Regions from separate parts of the Homo sapiens genome. Here region 1 is linked to region 2. A link means that fine-mapping ties the variant in region 2 to the expression of a gene that starts in the linked region. Tissue or cell type: whole blood. Region 2 holds a variant in brackets; the other region holds the start of a gene. All regions are shown on one strand. Distances are from middle to middle.

The links. PIP is the estimated chance that this variant, and not a neighbour inherited with it, causes the effect.
Region 1: AQP10 starts here. The variant in region 2 is fine-mapped to the expression of AQP10 in whole blood (TOPMed, PIP 0.98).

The regions. Positions count from the first base shown.
Region 1 is chr1:154,316,616-154,324,615 of GRCh38, reverse strand. AQP10 (aquaporin 10) reads right to left here and starts at 3,523. Exons shown (of 6, transcript NM_080429.3): 1 at 3,356-3,523; 2 at 2,557-2,683; 3 at 1,497-1,634; 4 at 1,257-1,375; 5 at 810-1,027; 6 at 1-334. The coding sequence starts at 3,460. The coding sequence ends at 136. RefSeq lists an enhancer at 51-130 and a silencer at 3,553-3,744.
Region 2 is chr1:154,286,808-154,295,067 of GRCh38, reverse strand. LOC124904806 (small nucleolar RNA SNORD59) reads right to left here and starts at 6,608; the gene lies at 6,541-6,608. The variant C/T (reference allele first, on the strand shown) is at 3,748.

The sequences.
Region 1 (8,000 bases), 30 kb before region 2:
GAAGGGATGCCAAACAGATAAACAGAGAAGCCTCCCAGGTTCTGGCACATTAACAAAGAGGAAGAATGACTGTTGTTCCCAGGCGGGGTCAGTGGCTGGCTCCAGGGTCCATGAGTGAAGTGAGGGTTGTCCTAATCATAGCTTACACTCCAGCATCTGAGCTGAGGCAGGAGTTTCCAACTCTGAGGCTTTGTGTTGAGCAGACACCAGATCCTGAGCTGGCTCTGGGCCCTCAGGGTGGTGCAGAGCCACCAACAGCTGGTAAGTGGCTGTGCCAACGGTGGCCCCCACCAGAGGGGCCACCACAGGCACCCACCACCAGCCATTACCAGCACTGCAAAAGAAGGACAGTGGGAAGGTATCAGGAGTGACTCCCTTAGCCTTCCCCTCTCCAAGGACGGGGGGCAGTAACAAGAGAGTGCCCTAAAGTTGTTCCCAGGGTGGTAGACACCAGGAAGAGGATTGCCTTGTCACCAAAGCATAGTATTTAGAAGAGGGAACCCCAGGAGAGCTTGGTCCAGCCTCTTGCCTTAGGGAATTATCTGAATATATTAATTTTGCTGATGAAGTCACTAATGTGCATGGAAGTAATGTGGCATGCCTAAGAACACAACCTCTAAATCTTACTGTTTCAGTGAAAAGTTGGGAGGGAAGCAAGGGAGAAAGGGGGAGAATATGACTTGGAGAAAGAACACTGTCCTAAGAAGCCAAGAGAGCTATTTTAAAGGCAGAGTGCTGTGGACCCAGGGACAGAGCCCTTAGCAGAGGAAGGTGAGTGGAGGCCAGCACCAGGAGAGTCTGTCTCCCACCTGAAGACTTCAGGACCCCAGCCAGCCACGTAGGTGAAGAGACGTGGGCCCAGGTCCCGGGCAGGGTTGAGTGGAATCCCGCAGTTGGCACCCATGGATAACCCGAGGGCCAGGATCAGCATCCCCACCACCACAGGCTCCAGACCCGCAGGGACTCCCTTGTTCCGTCTGTCCAGGATGGCCAAGAGCCCCACAATCAGCATCCCAGTGCCCAGAACCTTGGAGTCAACAGAGGCAGAGGGTTCCCTGTCAGCTGCCAGGTGCTCCATCTGCCCTCTCTCATCCAAATATTCCATGTCATCTGGCTTTGTGCAACACAGGCAGTTGGGGATGGTGGGGAGTGCCAAGATAGACCCAACCCACACTCCACCCAGAGACTGAACAATAGGCTGGGGTGCCGAGGAACAGGACCAAAGTAGTGTCCCCAGGTCTCCCCCTCACACTTACCTGATCCAGGAAGCCATTGTTCAGGGACAGATAGGGGGCAGGATAGGTGGCAAAAATGGAGGCTGTCTCCTTGGGGCCAGTCACTGTCAGGTTCCCACCTGTATAGTTCTGTAGGGCATCTGTGGAGGAAGGGAACACCCAGGATTTCCCTCTTTGCTCATTCATCCAAAACCATTCTGAGGCACCCCTGCCCACCCACAGGTGCTCTCAAGGCACAGCTCCCTCTGTTCCCTCTGTCACCATGGTAGAGAACATAGGTGGCTCCCGAAGCACAGAAAGCAGACAGCAACTGCACCAAGATGTAAATGGGGAGCTTGACCCAGGGGAGGCGTCCAACGATGCACATGGCCAGGGAGAAGGCTGGATTCAGGTGGGCCCCTTCAAGTATCAAGGAAAGAAAAAGAGCATCTATTAAGTGTCACTGCCAGGCATTGTCACCAGACAACACTACTGCTCCTTCCTATAGCTCTTAAGGCAGATAGTGTAATTCTCATCACACAGCTTAGGAAATTGAGGCTCCAGATGTTACAGATGTTAAGTGACTTAGCAAAGTCACACTGTGGGCCAGGCACAGTGGCTCACGCCTGTAATCCCAGCACTTTGGGAGGCCGAGGCAGTGGATCACTTGAGGTCAGGAATTCCAGACCAGCCTGGCCAACATGGTGAAACCCCGTTTCCACTAAAAACACAAATATTAGCCAGGCGTGGTAGCAGGTGCCTGTAAAATCAGCTATTCGGGATGCTGAGGCAGGAGAATCGCGTGAACCCAGGGGCAGAGGTTGCAGTGAACAGACATCACACCACTGCTCTCCAGCCTGGGCAACAGAGTGAAACTCCATCTCAAAAAAAAAGAAAAAAAAAAAAAAAAAAGAAGAAGACACTGTGAATCCAAAGTTGGAACCTAGGTCTGTCTGCTTTTTCCACAGCAACACACTATGTCTCAAGGCTCCACCCAAGCACACCGATGCAGTGTGTATCTGGGGTACAAACAGGAGAGGTCCTGAGTGGAGATGAGCCCCCAGAGGACTTCAGGTGGGGGATACAAGAGGATAGCAGCTGCCCTTCGTGCCCTGCCATTGATTTCTGTCTAGGTGAGCCAAGCATTAGTGTGAGGAAGCAGGATGGAGAGATACAGAAAGAGGAGGGGCTGGTGGGGCCAAAGGCTTATTTCAGTCTGGGACACTGTTCAAGGGGATAATGTCCACGAGTCACAGAAGGATTTGCGTTTCCACCATCACCAGACAGACAAACTGGCATGCACATCCCACGTGCTCTGATGACCAGACCCCACCCTCCTCACCTGAGACGTTACCACCCACGTAGATGGCTATCGTAACGGCCAGAGAGCCAGCCAGAAACATGGTGAAGAAGTTGCCTTTGGTTTCTCCACTGGTGACAGCCTGGGCCACAGCTCCTTGGGTGAGGAGCTGCTGAGAAGAGGAGAGATGAGGAACAGGGAGCCCAGGAGACCAACAGGGAGAAAGGTTGGGAAGGCCAGGGGAGCAGCCAAGGAGATGAATGAGCACAGAAGACAAGCAAGGGAAGGAGAAAAGCAGAAGGAGGGAAGGGAAAAGAAATGGGGAAAGTGGAGGAAGAAGAAAGGGAAAGAATGTGGGAAAAAAGAAAAGAATTTACCCAACTCATAGGCATTTGAGGGTACAAACCCATGGCAGGGCTCAGCTTTAAAAAGTCTTATCTAAGATTCTTTCTATGGAAGAGTTCCATCAAAGCCAATTTTAAAAGCCTATGTGAAAAATAATTATTCTTGCTGCACTTTATACAATCATCAGGCCAAGTATAATAAAGCACATTGGTCTTACCATGAAAATGGTCTTTCATAAAAATGGGAAACTGAAGAGAGAAAAATTATGTTTCAAGAACTATGATACACTTGTTATTAAAGAAAGAATAAAAATGACAAGAATAAAAATGATGAAGTAGGAGAGGAAAGGAGATTAGGAGAGACGAGAGGATAAAAACGAAAAGTGATAGGGAGTTGAGAGGAAGGGGGACACCAAGAGAAAGAGATAAGGACAACAGAAGGAGCCAGGAACTTTTGCCCAACCCCCTTCTTTCCTTCCCGCAGTGATCCTACCTACCATGAGTACAAACACACCCAGAAACTCTGCCAGGCACTGCCGGGCCAGGAGGCTGCGTATCCGGAGGTGGCCCATGATTTCAGCCGGGGCCTGAGTGAAGACCATGGTGGAAACACCCTATTGCTATTCACTGCTCCCTCTGTCTGCATAGGCACACTGTCACTGCACAGCTACTGCCTGCCTCCAGCAAAGATAAGGAACAGACTTTAAAACCATTAGCTCAGTTCCTGAACAGCAGCTACGTGTCTGTGCACGTGTGTAGGCTAGGAAACAGAGAGATAACAAGAGAATGTCTGGGAGCAGGCTATGAACACAGAGCCTGGAGTTTACCCAACCTCTGTCTCTTTTACCCTTCATTCCCAGTCATCACAGGACTAGCCTCCCCCATCCTGACAAATAGAAGGAAGTACCCCGCTTCATAGACATTAGATCTCTTGGTCCTGAAGTCAGCTCTGCAAAGTAGTACTATTGCTTCCATTCTACAGATGAGGCTAGTGGGCCTTAGAACTCCCCAAGATCAAACTTTTTTTTTTTTTTTTTCTGAGAGAGAGTCTTGCTCTGTCCCCCAGGCTGGAGTGCAGTGGCACCATCTCAGCTTACTGCAACCTCCACCTCCCAGGTTCAAGCAATTCTCCTGCCTCAGCCTCCCAAGTAGATGGGACTACAGGTCCATCACACCTGGCTAATTTTGATATTTTTTAGTAAAGACTTGGTTTCTCGGGAGGCCGAGGCAGGCAGATCACGAGGTCAGGAGATCAAGACTATCCTGGCCAACATGGTGAAACTCCATCTCTACTAAAATACAAAAAAATTAGCGTGGTGGTGCACGCCTGTAGTCCCAGCTACTCGGGAGGCTGAGGCAGGGGAATCACTTGAACCAGGGAGGCGGAGGTTGCAGTGAGCCGAGATTGTGCCACTGCACTCCAGCCTGGCAACAGAGCGAGACTTTGTCTCAAAAAAAAAAAAAAAAAAAAAGACGGGGTTTCACCATGTTGGCCAGGCTGGTCTCAAACTCCTGACCTCTAGTGATTCACCTTCCTTGGCCTCCCAAAGTGCTGGGATTACAAGCGTGAGCCACCGTGCCCGGCCCAAGATCACACAATTATTTCATGGCTGAGTGAATTCAAATCCAGATTTTCTGACTCTCCAGCTGGTAACCCACAAAGCCTCTCATTTAGAACCTGAAGCCTTACCCCAAACCATTTGGATGCTTGAAGAACTCAATAGGCATCTGGAAAGACTGGGCTAAAGACCACAGACTGTGGGAATGAAACTCACATATTGAGTGCTTGTACTTCCCTTATGCCGAGTGTCACATAGGTTAGAGAATACTCCATCTTTGTGTCCCCTGACATGGCTTGACATGAGGCCTTCACACTCATGCTGAGCTCCACCTGGCCTTCTCTGGGTGCATGCCACTCTTGCTCTGCATGAAGTAACCGCATCCTACTTCTTCATATCTCAAGGCTCCAATTAAATGCATTCAAAGAATCTACGTCTAGACACTGGAGAAACAGTGGTGAACAAAACATAGTCTCTGCCCTCCTAGAGCTTATGTTCTAGTAGGTGGAAACAGACAATATGCAACTTTTTAAAATACCATATACAGTTTATGAAGTTCTTGAGGGCTACCATTATGATTTATGTAACCCTGTGGGCTCTACCACTGTCCTGGGCACATCTGTGTGACTAGTAAAGAAATAATATTTCTTTACTAGGTTTAATGGATACTATAGTGCTCCACCCAGATTCCCCCTTGGGAGCCAATATGCCCATTCGCTACATGTAGGAAATACCAGCTGCTGATACCACATAGCTACCTCCCTCATTGGGCAATGCCCTTCAAGTCAGAAAGATGCCTCACCGAAGGTTACATGCCCTCCTATGGGGCCCATGTCAAACACTGATTGATGGAGGGATATAAAAGTCTAGCCTCTTTGCCTCACTTTGCGACAACTCTAAAGGGCTGTTCCAGCTCCAGTTCCCCCATAGGATCCATTTAGGCATCTGTTATATCATCCATGTGTGTCAGTTTCTCCTGGTGCCTAATCTTGTTACAGGAAAGGGGTCTGAATCCAGATCCCAAGAGAGGGTTCTTGGATCTCACACTAGAAATAATTCAGGCTGAGTGCGGCGGCTCATGCCTGTAATCCTAGCACTTTGGGAGGCCAAGGCGGGATCACAAAGTCAGGAGATTGAGACCATCCTGGCTAACATGGTGAAACCCCGTCTCCATTAAAAATACAAAAAAATTAGCCGGGCATGGTGGTGGGCGCCTGTAGTCCCAGCTACTTGGGAGGCTGAGGCAGGAGAATGGCATGAACCCGGGAGGTGGAGGTTGCAGTGAGCCGAGATCGCACCACTGCACTCCAGCCTGGGTGACAGAACGAGACTCCGCCTCAAAAAAAAGAAAAAAAGAATTCAGGGCGAGTCCATAGAGTAAAGTGAAAGCAAGTTTATTAGGAAAGTAAAGGAATAAAACAATGGCTACTCCATAGACAGAGCAGCCCCGAGGGCTGCTGGTTGCCCATGTTTATGGTTGTTTCTTGATGATATGCTAAACAAGAGGTGGATTATTCATGCCTCCCCTTTTTAGACCATATAGGGTAACTTCCTGTCATTGTCATGGCATTTATAAACTGTCATGGCATGAGCCACCATGCCCGGCCATGACCTGTATCTTATGGCAACCTCCTATCTCATTCTGTAACTTAGAATGCTTTAACCATCTGGGAATGCAGCCCAGTAAGTCTCATTCTCATTTTACTCAGCTCTTGTTCAAAATAGACTTGCTCTGGTTCACGTGCCTCTGACATTTCCCCCCTTCCTTTTATAAGAGAAGCACTAATCCTAAGGGTTGCAGAGGGACGAAGGTCCATCTTCTGTAAGTTCTTCAGGATGAATAGGGGCGATGATATTTTTGCCTAACTCTTAGAATCTCTCATATTCGTGGTAGAGAGGAGCTCAGTTGGAAAGTGTTGGTATGGGCCAGGCGGGATGGCTCATGCCTGTAATCCCAACACTTTGGGAGGCTGAGGCAGGCGGATCACCTGAGGTCAGGAGTTCAGACCAGCCTGGCCAACATGGTGCAACACTGTCTCTACTAAAAAATACAAAAAAAATAGCCAGATGTGGTGGCGGGTGCCTGTAACCCTAGCTACTCAGGAGGCTGAGGCAGGAGAATCTCTTGAACCTGGGAGGCGGAGGTTGCAGTGAGCCAAGACTGTGCCATTGCACTCCAGCCTGAAAGAATGAAACTCCATCTGAAAGAAAAGAAAAGAAGGGAAGGGAAGGGAAGGGAAGAAAAAGCATTGGTATCTTGAGGGCCATTCATAACTCATGAGTTCTGACAAAAGGTGATACTCTGGAAGATTCATAAGTGTTCAGTTTAAGGAAACATTCAGTAAGCTTGTCCTCCATTCCTATACAAAGATTACAACAGCTATACATTCCACAACCATAAAGCAAAATAAGTAAAATTATCCCAAGTAAACTAAACTAGAAGGCTTTCCATGAACTGAGGAACTGTTGGAACCACGCTGATATGAGGTTGCTAGATGATTCCAGTACATGCCCAGAATTAGAATATTGATGCAGATTTTTACATTACCCATCCCTCTTGTTTCTTCTGAGCAGCAGTCAGAGGCCACTGGTTGGTTCACAGGACTAAGCAGGGTTAGCCTAAATTGCAGAAACAAACTTAAAGACAACTGATGAGACTGGAATTTAATAACAAGTGTATCATAGTTCTTGAAACATAATTTTTCTCTCTCCAGTTTCCCATTTTTATGAAAGACCATTTTTATGGTAAGACCAATGTGCTTTATTATACTTGGCCTGATGATTGTATAAAGTGCAGCAAGAATAATTATTTTTCACGTAGGCTTTTAAAATTGGCTTTGATGGAACTCTGTTCCATAGAAAGAATCTTGGATAAGACTTTTTAAAGCTGAGCCCTGCCATGGGTTTGTGCCCTCAAATACCTTTGAGTTGGGTAAATTCTTCCTCTCCTTTTGAGGTCCCCAGATAACTTGGGGCTCCTGGACCTTTTAGAAGGTGACATTCTTTACTTACCACAGGTCAGAAACCCTGTACAGGGACTGTGTAGGCAAGGTTATGAGCCCAGGTCGCTAAGTGGCTTTTATAGGCTTTACAAGTCAAGTTTGATTCCTTAATGGAAAGCACACCATTCCAGTCAAACCCTTCATAAAATAAACAATTTCTCCAATTGTGTCCTGTTGCAAAAGAAAACAGATTCTTATTACCCTTATGCAAATAACTGCATTGCCATAAATTAAGAATACACACAAATAATTTCCAAATTCTGGAGAAATCAAGTAGAGAGATGCATATACTCCAAATTTTGTTCACAGGAGTATACTTTACTCGATTATTAAAAGCTGTAAATATCTGAAAAGAAAAGTTGCCTTGACTCTAAAAAATAAAACAAAGGATCAGCAATGTTTTAAGCAAAGGCAAAAAGATTGCTTTAGTCTTCTTTAGTTTATGCAGTTAACTTTTGTTTGATATCTATGAACATTTCAGCTCCCCATGAGAGTTCTGAAAGTTGTTTCCTCTATTCTAATGTCACAATCTCCAAAGTTATCAGAAACCTGCATTTAAGTGCACCTGTTAAAGTCCTATG
Region 2 (8,260 bases):
CCTTTGTCTCCTCTCCTTTGGACATGTATTACATGTATATCGGCATGCTTGATGTACCACTGGCCTCTGAGTCTTTTTGTTTTCGGTGTTTTTTTGTTTTTGTTTTTTGGTTTTTTTGTTTCTTTTTTTGAGACAGTCTTGCTTTGTCACCCAGGCTGGAGTGCAGTGACATGAACATGGTCACTGCAGCCTTGACCACCCAGGCTCAAGCGATTCTTCTGCCTCAGCCTCCCAAGTAGTTGGGACTATAGGGGCACACCACCATATCCAGCTTACTTTTGTATGTTTTGTTGAGATAGGGTTTCATCATGTTGCCCAGGCTGGTCTTAAACTCCTGGGCTCAAGCAATCCATCTGCCTCAGCCTCTCAAAGTGCTGGGATTACAGGTGTGAGCCACTGTACCCAGCTGTTCACTTTCCTGCAATCATTTTTGTCTCTGTCATTCAGACTAGATTATTATTATTGATCTATCTTCAAGTTTATTAAATTTTTCCTCTGCTATCTTAAATCTGCTATTGGGTTCATTTAGTAAAATTTTCATTTCAGTTATTTTACTTTATAATTCTAGAATTTCTGTTTGATTCTTTTTTTATAGCTTCTATTTCTCTGTTGAGATTCCATATTTATTGAGTCATTGTTAAACATTTTTATTTAATTCCTTGAACATATTTATAATATGTGCTTTAAAGTCTTTGTCTGCCAAATTCAACTTCTGGGCCTACTCAGAGTCAGTTTTTATTTTTATTTATTTTTTTTTTTTTTGAGACAGAGTCTCACTCTATCACCCAGGCTGGAGTGCAGTGGTGCCATCTCGGCTCACTGCAAGCCCCGCTTCCCAGGTTCACACCATTCTCCTGCCTCAGCCTCCCAAGTAGCTGGGACTACAGGCGCCCGCCACAATGCCCGGCTAATTTTTTTGTTAGCCAGGATGGTCTTGATCTCCTGAGCTCGTGATCTGCCAGCCTCGGCCTCCCAAAGTGCTGGGATTACAGGTGTGAGCTACTGTGCCTGGACTCAGTTTTTATTTTGTTTTTTATTGTTTTTTTTTTTGGAGACAGAGTGTTGCTCTGTCACCCAGGCTGGAGTGCAGTGGAATGATCTCAGCTCACTGCAACCTCCGCCTCCCAGGTTCAAGCAATTCTCCTGCCTCAGCCTCCCCAGTAGCTAGGATTATAGGCGCCCACCACCATGCCTGACTAATTTTTGTATTTTTAGTAGTGACAGGGTTTCATCATGTTGGCCAGGCTGGTCTCAAACACCTGACCTCAGGTGATCCACCCGCCTCGGCCTCTCAAAGTGCTGGGATTACAGGCGTGAGCCACTGCACCCGGCTAGTTTTCATTGACTTTTAAAATCAGGATATGAGTTACTGTTTTTTAGGTTTCTTCGCATGTGTCATAATTTTTTTCTTGAAAACTGATCATTTTATCCTCTTCCTCCTCTAAAAAACTGGTCATTTTAGATAATAGACTGTAATAACTCTGGATTCTGTTGTATTTTTCCGAAAGGTGGTGATGCTGGTGATGCTGATGGGGTGTGTGTGTGTGTGTGTGTGTGTGTGTGTGTAATTTGGAGTTAAACCGTAGAGTCTGGATTCTATTGTATTTTTCTGAATGGTGGTGATGCTGGTGATGCTGATGTGTGTGTGTGTGTCATTTGTCTGGAGTTAAACTGTAGAGTCTATCATTCCACAGTGTGCAGCTGCTAATGTGTCTGCTCAGTTTTTATTCTCGTTTTTTTTGTTTGTTTGTTTGTTTTGTTTTGTTTTGTTTTGTTTTGTTTTGTTTTGTTTGAGATGGAGTTTTGCTTTTGTTGTCCAGGCTGGAGTGCAATGGCATGATCTTGGCTCACTGCAACCTCTGCCTCCAGGGGTCAAGTGATTCTCCTGCCTCAGCCTCCTGAGTAGTGAGTAGCTGGGATTACAGGCATGCACTACTATGCCTGGCTAATTCTGTATTTTTAGTAGAGACAGGGTTTCTCCATGTTGGTCAGGCTGGTCTTCAACTCCTGACCTCAGGTGATCTTCCCACCTCGGCCTCCGAAAGTGCTGGGATTACAGGCATGAGCCACCATGCCCGGCCATTTATTCTTGTTTTTAAAATTTTCCCACAGGGGTCAGGCATGGTGGCTCACCTTTAATCCCAGCACTTTTGGGAGGCCAAAGCGGCTTGAGCTCAGGAGTTTGAGACCAGCCTGGGCAACATACCAAGACCCCATCTCTACTAAAAATACAAAAACTTAGCAGGTAGTGGTGGCATGTACCTGTGGTCCCAGCTACTCATGAGCTGAAGTAGGAAGATTGCTTGCGACTGGGAGGCAGAGGTTGCAGTGAACCGAGATCATGCCACTATACTTCAGCCAGGGTGACAGAGTGAGACCCCTATCTCAAATAATAATAATAATAAATTTTTCCAGCCAGGTGCAGTGGCTCATGTCTGTAATCCCAGCACTTTGGGAGGCTAAGGTGGATGGATCACCTGAGGTCAGGAGTTTGAGGCCATCCTGGCAAACATGGCGATACCCCATCTCTACTAAAAATACAAAATTTAGCCGGGCATGGTGGCACCCAGCTATACTCTCAGCTACTCGGGAAGCTGAGGTAGGAGAATTGCTTGATCCTGGGAAGTGGAGGTTTCAGTGAGCCAAGATCGAGCCATTGCACTCCAGCCTGGGCGACAGAGTTAGACTCCGTCTCAAAAAAAAAAAAATGTTCCCTCAAGGATTAGAACAGGAATTAAAAGAAATTAAAGACTGTAGGCCGGTCGCAGTGGCTCATGCCTGTAATCTCAGCACTTTGGGAGGCTGAGGTGGGTGGATCACAAGGTCAGGAGTTTGAGACCAGCCTGGCTAACACGGTGAAACTCCATCTCTACTAAAAATACAAAAAAATTAGCCAGGCATGGTGGCGGGCACCTGTAGTCCCAGCTACTCGGGAGGCTGAGGCAGGAGAATGGCGTGAACCTGGGAAGCGGGGCTTGCAGTGAGCCAAGATGGCGCCACTGCCCTCCAGCTTGGGCAACAGAGTGAGACTCTGTCTCAAAAAAAAAAAAAAAATTAAAGACTGTGTAAGCAAAAACTCAGTTGTATGTAAGAAAACCCAATTCCCCCTTGAGGAACAGAAAGGGCTGGAGTCCTTTAAAATTAACTGCCTGTTTTTCTCTCTGTGGCTAGTGAGCCTTATCTCTCCATTTACCAGGCATTGTGAAGACTCTGTTTCTCTAGCTGTGCAGCTGCAAGGTCACTAGACAGATAATCTCAAGTCGTAAAACATGTTGTTCCTTGAACAGTAAGAAATAATGTAATGCATGCCTTAACTGAATAACTGTCTTTGTCTCTCGCTTCTATAATACGCTTCCCCCCGCACAGATCTCCCCCCACCCCACGAAATGCTTAAAAGGTAGCTTGACTCTTTGTTCCAGGCTCAGTCCTTTGGATGTTAATCCAACTGGGTCAGTGAACCTAAATAATTAAATAACTCCTCCTCAATCCCTCGGTCTCTCTGATTCCTTAATTATCCCGCAGCAGTATCACCCCTATGCTTACATAGCACAGTGTTCAGCCAATGATTAGAATAAGCATTGTGTTCCAACACCTCAAGCCCATATAGCATCCACTTCTGCCAATATATCTGTTTGAAGGATGAGAAGTGTATTAAAATGTGCAGCAGTGTTCAAGTCTTCCTTGTCTTTTATTTTTCAGGGAGCTCTCTGAGCTATCCTCCATGCATATGATAGTTTCCCAGTGAGC[C/T]AGGGATGTGGGAGAGCTTATCTCAGCCCTTTTGTAGTTTCCTATTTTCCAGCTAAATTTCTGGCTTTTCCACCACTGAACACAACTAGGAGTGCTACTTTGAGTTAGTACAGCTAGAGGGTTTTTTGCCTGTTTATTTCCTACCAACTTCATATCATTCAGCTGAGAACATTGTAGGCTTTTGTCCGCCTCCACCTAACTAACTCCTACAATTTCAGTCTACCCACTGTGACAGCAAACATTGCTGATTTTCACAGCCAGTTCCATACTGGTAAAACTACAGTTCCCAGCCACCAAGGAAGTTGGATGGGAGCAGCCTCAGGCAAGAAGGCTGCAAACTCACATTGCTTTTGCTTGAAGCTGTAGCAGTTTTTCAAGAATAAAAGCTCCTCAATTTGTTTTCTGCCTTGCTCAGTTTCCAGAGACTTGAAATCATTGTTTGGGGCAATTTTATTTAATTTCATAGTTTTTTTGGTGAAGATTCACAGATCCCTTTACACTGCTATAGCCAGAAGTTCCTTGGTGTAGTTTTTATTTATTTATTTATTTTAATGTATCTTATTTTTATTTTTATTTTTTTTGAGACAGTCTCGCTGTGTTGTCCAGGCTGGAGTGCAATGGTGTGATCTCGGCTCACCGCAACCTCTTCCTTCAAGGTTCAAGCGATTCTCCTGCCTCAGCCTCCCAAGTAGCTAGGATTACAGGTGCCTGCCACCATGCCCAGGTAATTTTGTATTTTTAGTAGAGATAGGGTTTCACCATGTTGGCCAGGCTGGTCTCAAACTCCGGACCTCAGGTGATCTGCTGCCTCGGCCTCCCAAAGTGCTGGGATTACAGGCATGAACCCCGCGCACGTTCCTTGGTGTAGTTTTAAATTGACATGAGTGTTACTGTGCAAACAATATGGTTTTGTTTTTTCACTCATTACTATTTTTAAGATCTCTCCATGTTGTCTTTTGAATATTTTGTATATCTGCTGAGTAGCATTCTATACTATGCAACTCCCATATTTAACCTTTCTTTTTCTTTCTTTCTTTCTTTTTTTTTGAGATGGAGTCTCGCTCTGTTGCCCAGGCTGGAGTGCAATGGCGTGATCTCAGCTCACTGCAACCTCCATCTCCCAGGTTCTAGCGATTCTCTTGCCTCAGCCTCCCAAGTAGCTGGGACTACAGGCGCCTGCCACCATGCCCAGCTAATTTTTGTATTTTTAGTAGGGACAGGGTTTCACCGTGTTGACCAGGCTGGTCTCGAACTCCGGACCTCAGGTGATCTGCTCTCCTTAGCCTCCCAAAGTGCTGGGATTACAGGCGTGAGCCACTGCACCAGGCTTATATTTAACCTTTCTACTTTGCTAATGAAAGTCACCCAAAACTGAGTTCTAACATTGAGCTTCCACAAATAATGCTGTGATAAATATTCTTGCATGTGACCCCTTATGAATCTAGACACAAGTTTCTCTGTAACGTATATGAAGGAGTTGAGGACTAAACTCTAATTTTTTTTATCTTGCCCAAATTCCTATCTAAGGGATCTGGGGAGTCATGACCTACAAATCATAAATTCTCATCAGATAGGTTTTATTTAACCCTATATATCATGATTTACTTTCCAACCTGACTCTGGTATAACATTACGAGACAAAGAAGAAAATCAAAATATTTTACCCCAAAACATGTTTCTTTGTCATATTTTAAAATGCCCCTGCAAAGCTGTTCTTTGTGGGGAAAATCTACATCCATAAAGAATCTCTATTAACATAGCCAGGGCTGGGGGCGGTGTCTCATGCTTGTAATCCCAGCACTTTGGGAGGCTGAGGCAGGAAAATCACTTGAACCCAAGAGTTGGAGGCTGCAGTGAGTGGAGATCGCGCCATTGCACTCCAGCTTGGGAGACAGAGCGAGGCTCCATCTCAAAAAAAAAATATATATATATATATATATTTATACATAAATACATATATATAAAAATACATATACATATACATATATATAAATATATATATGTGTATATATATATACATCTTTTTCTTCCAGATCCTCCCAATCCTAAAGAGACTAACTGAGATCTGAATAGGAAACATTTGTCACCTATTGTCTCCAAGGCAGCCATTATGAGACTTCAAAAGAGCTTTGGTCTCCACAATCTTTATCTTAACCTGAACATTCCCTTTCTATCTATCCCAGCTCTTTAGACAACCTTAACCAATTGTCAACCAGAAAACATTTAAATTCACCTATAGCCTCGAAGCCCCCACTTTGAGTTGTTCCACCTTTCTAGACCAAACCAATGTATGTCTTAAATGTATTTAATTGATGTGTCATTCTTCTCTAAAGTGTATAAAACCAAGCTGCACTCCAACCACTTTGTGCACAGGTTCTCAGGACTTCCTGAGGGTTGTGTCACAGGCCATGGTCAGTCATCTTTGAGTCAGAATAAATCTCTTCAAATATTTTACAGAGTTCCACTCTTTTGGTCGACAGAGTAGAATTGCTGGGTCATAGAGCATGTGCATATTTAATTTCACAAAGCTCTGCCAGATTCTTTACTACAAAAATGGAAACGGCTGCATGTCTCACACTCCAGGAGTACAGCAGGGATTTGTTTCCTCTCATCTTGGATCTTGCTAATATTTGGTATTACCGGACTAATTTTTGCCTACCTGATGGGTGTAAAGTGGTATCTCATTATTATTTTAATGTGCATTTTTCTGATTGCGTTCAAGGTAGAGGATTAATTTATACTGTTGGTATTCAGATTTCCCCTTCTGTGATTGCTTACCATGTTTATTTTTTTCCTTCCCAGGAATGGCATCTGGGTTCAGCAAACTCAGAATGAAAGTCAGAAGCTACTCATCAGTGAGTGCTTAATCATGTTTTTTACCTATTTTCTTTTTTTCTTTTTCTTTTTTTTTTATTGATCATTCTTGGGTGTTTCTCGCAGAGGGGGATTTGGCAGGGTCACAGGACAATAGTGGAGGGAAGGTCAGCAGATAAACAAGTGAACAAAGGTCTCTGGTTTTCCTAGGCAGAGGACCCTGCGGCCTTCCGCAGTGTTTGTGTCCCTGGGTACTTGAGATTGGGGAGTGGTGATGACTCTTAAAGAGCATGCTGCCTTCAAGCATCTGTTTAACAAAGCACATCTTGCACCGCCCTTAATCCATTCAACCCTGAGTGGATACAGCACCTGTTTCAGAGAGCACAGGGTTGGGGGTAAGGTCACAGATCTACAGGATCCCAAGGCAGAAGAATTTTTCTTAGTACAGAACAAAATGAAAAGTCTCCCATGTCTACCTCTTTCTACACAGACACGGCAACCATCCGATTTCTCAATCTTTTCCCCACCTTTCCCCCCTTTCTATTCCACAAAACCGCCATTATCATCATGGCCCGTTCTCAATGAGCTGTTGGGTACACCTCCCAGACGGGGTGGTGGCCGGGCAGAGGGGCTCCTTACTTCCCAGTAGGGGCGGCGGGGCAGAGGCGCCCCTCACCTCCCGGACGGGGCGGCTGGCCGGGCGGGGGGCTGACCCCCCACCTCCCGCCCGGACGGGGCGGCTGCCGGGCAGAGACGCTCCTCACTTCCCAGACGGGGTGGCTGCTGGGCGGAGGGGCTCCTCACTTCTCAGACCGGGCGGCTGCCGGGCGGAGGGGCTCCTCACTTCTCAGACGGGGCGGTTGCCAGGCAGAGGGTCTCCTCACTTCTCAGACGGGGCGGCCGGGCAGAGACGCTCCTCACATCCCGGACGGGGCGGCAGGGCAGAGGTGCTCCCCACATCTCAGACGATGGGTGGCCGGGCAGAGACGCTCCTCACTTCCCAGATGGGATGGCGGCCGGGAAGAGGCGCTCCTCACTTCCTAGATGGGATGGCGGCCGGGCAGAGACCCTCCTCACTTTCCAGACTAGGCAGCCAGGCAGAGGGGCTCCTCACATCCCAGACGATGGGCGGCCGGGCAGAGACGCTCCTCACTTCCCAGACGGGGTGGCGGCCGGGCAGAGGCTGCAATCTCGGCACTTTGGGAGGCCAAGGCAGGCTGCTGGGAGGTGGAGGTTGTAGCGAGCCGAGATCACTCCACTGCACTCCAGCCTGGGCACCATTGAGCACTGAGTGAAGGAGACTCCGTCTGCAATCCCGGCACCTCGGGAGGCCGAGGCTGGTGGATCACTCGCGGTTAGGAGCTGGAGACCAGCCTAGCCAACACAGCGAAACCCCATCTCCACCAAAAAAATACGAAAACCAGTCAGGCATGGCGGCGTGCGCCTGCAATCACAGGCATTCGGCAGGCTGAGGCAGGAGAATCAGGAAGGGAGGTTGCAGTGAGCCGAGATGGCAGCAGTACCGTCCAGCTTTGGCTCGACATCAGAGGGAGACCGTGGAAAGAGAGGGAGAGGGAGACCGTGGGGAGAGGGAGAGGGAGAGGGAGCCCTATTTTCTTGCTTTTAGTTTAGTGCCTTATTGATTTGAGGAGTGGGTTGTGTGGTCTAGATATTAACCCATTGCTTGCTTTAAATTTTG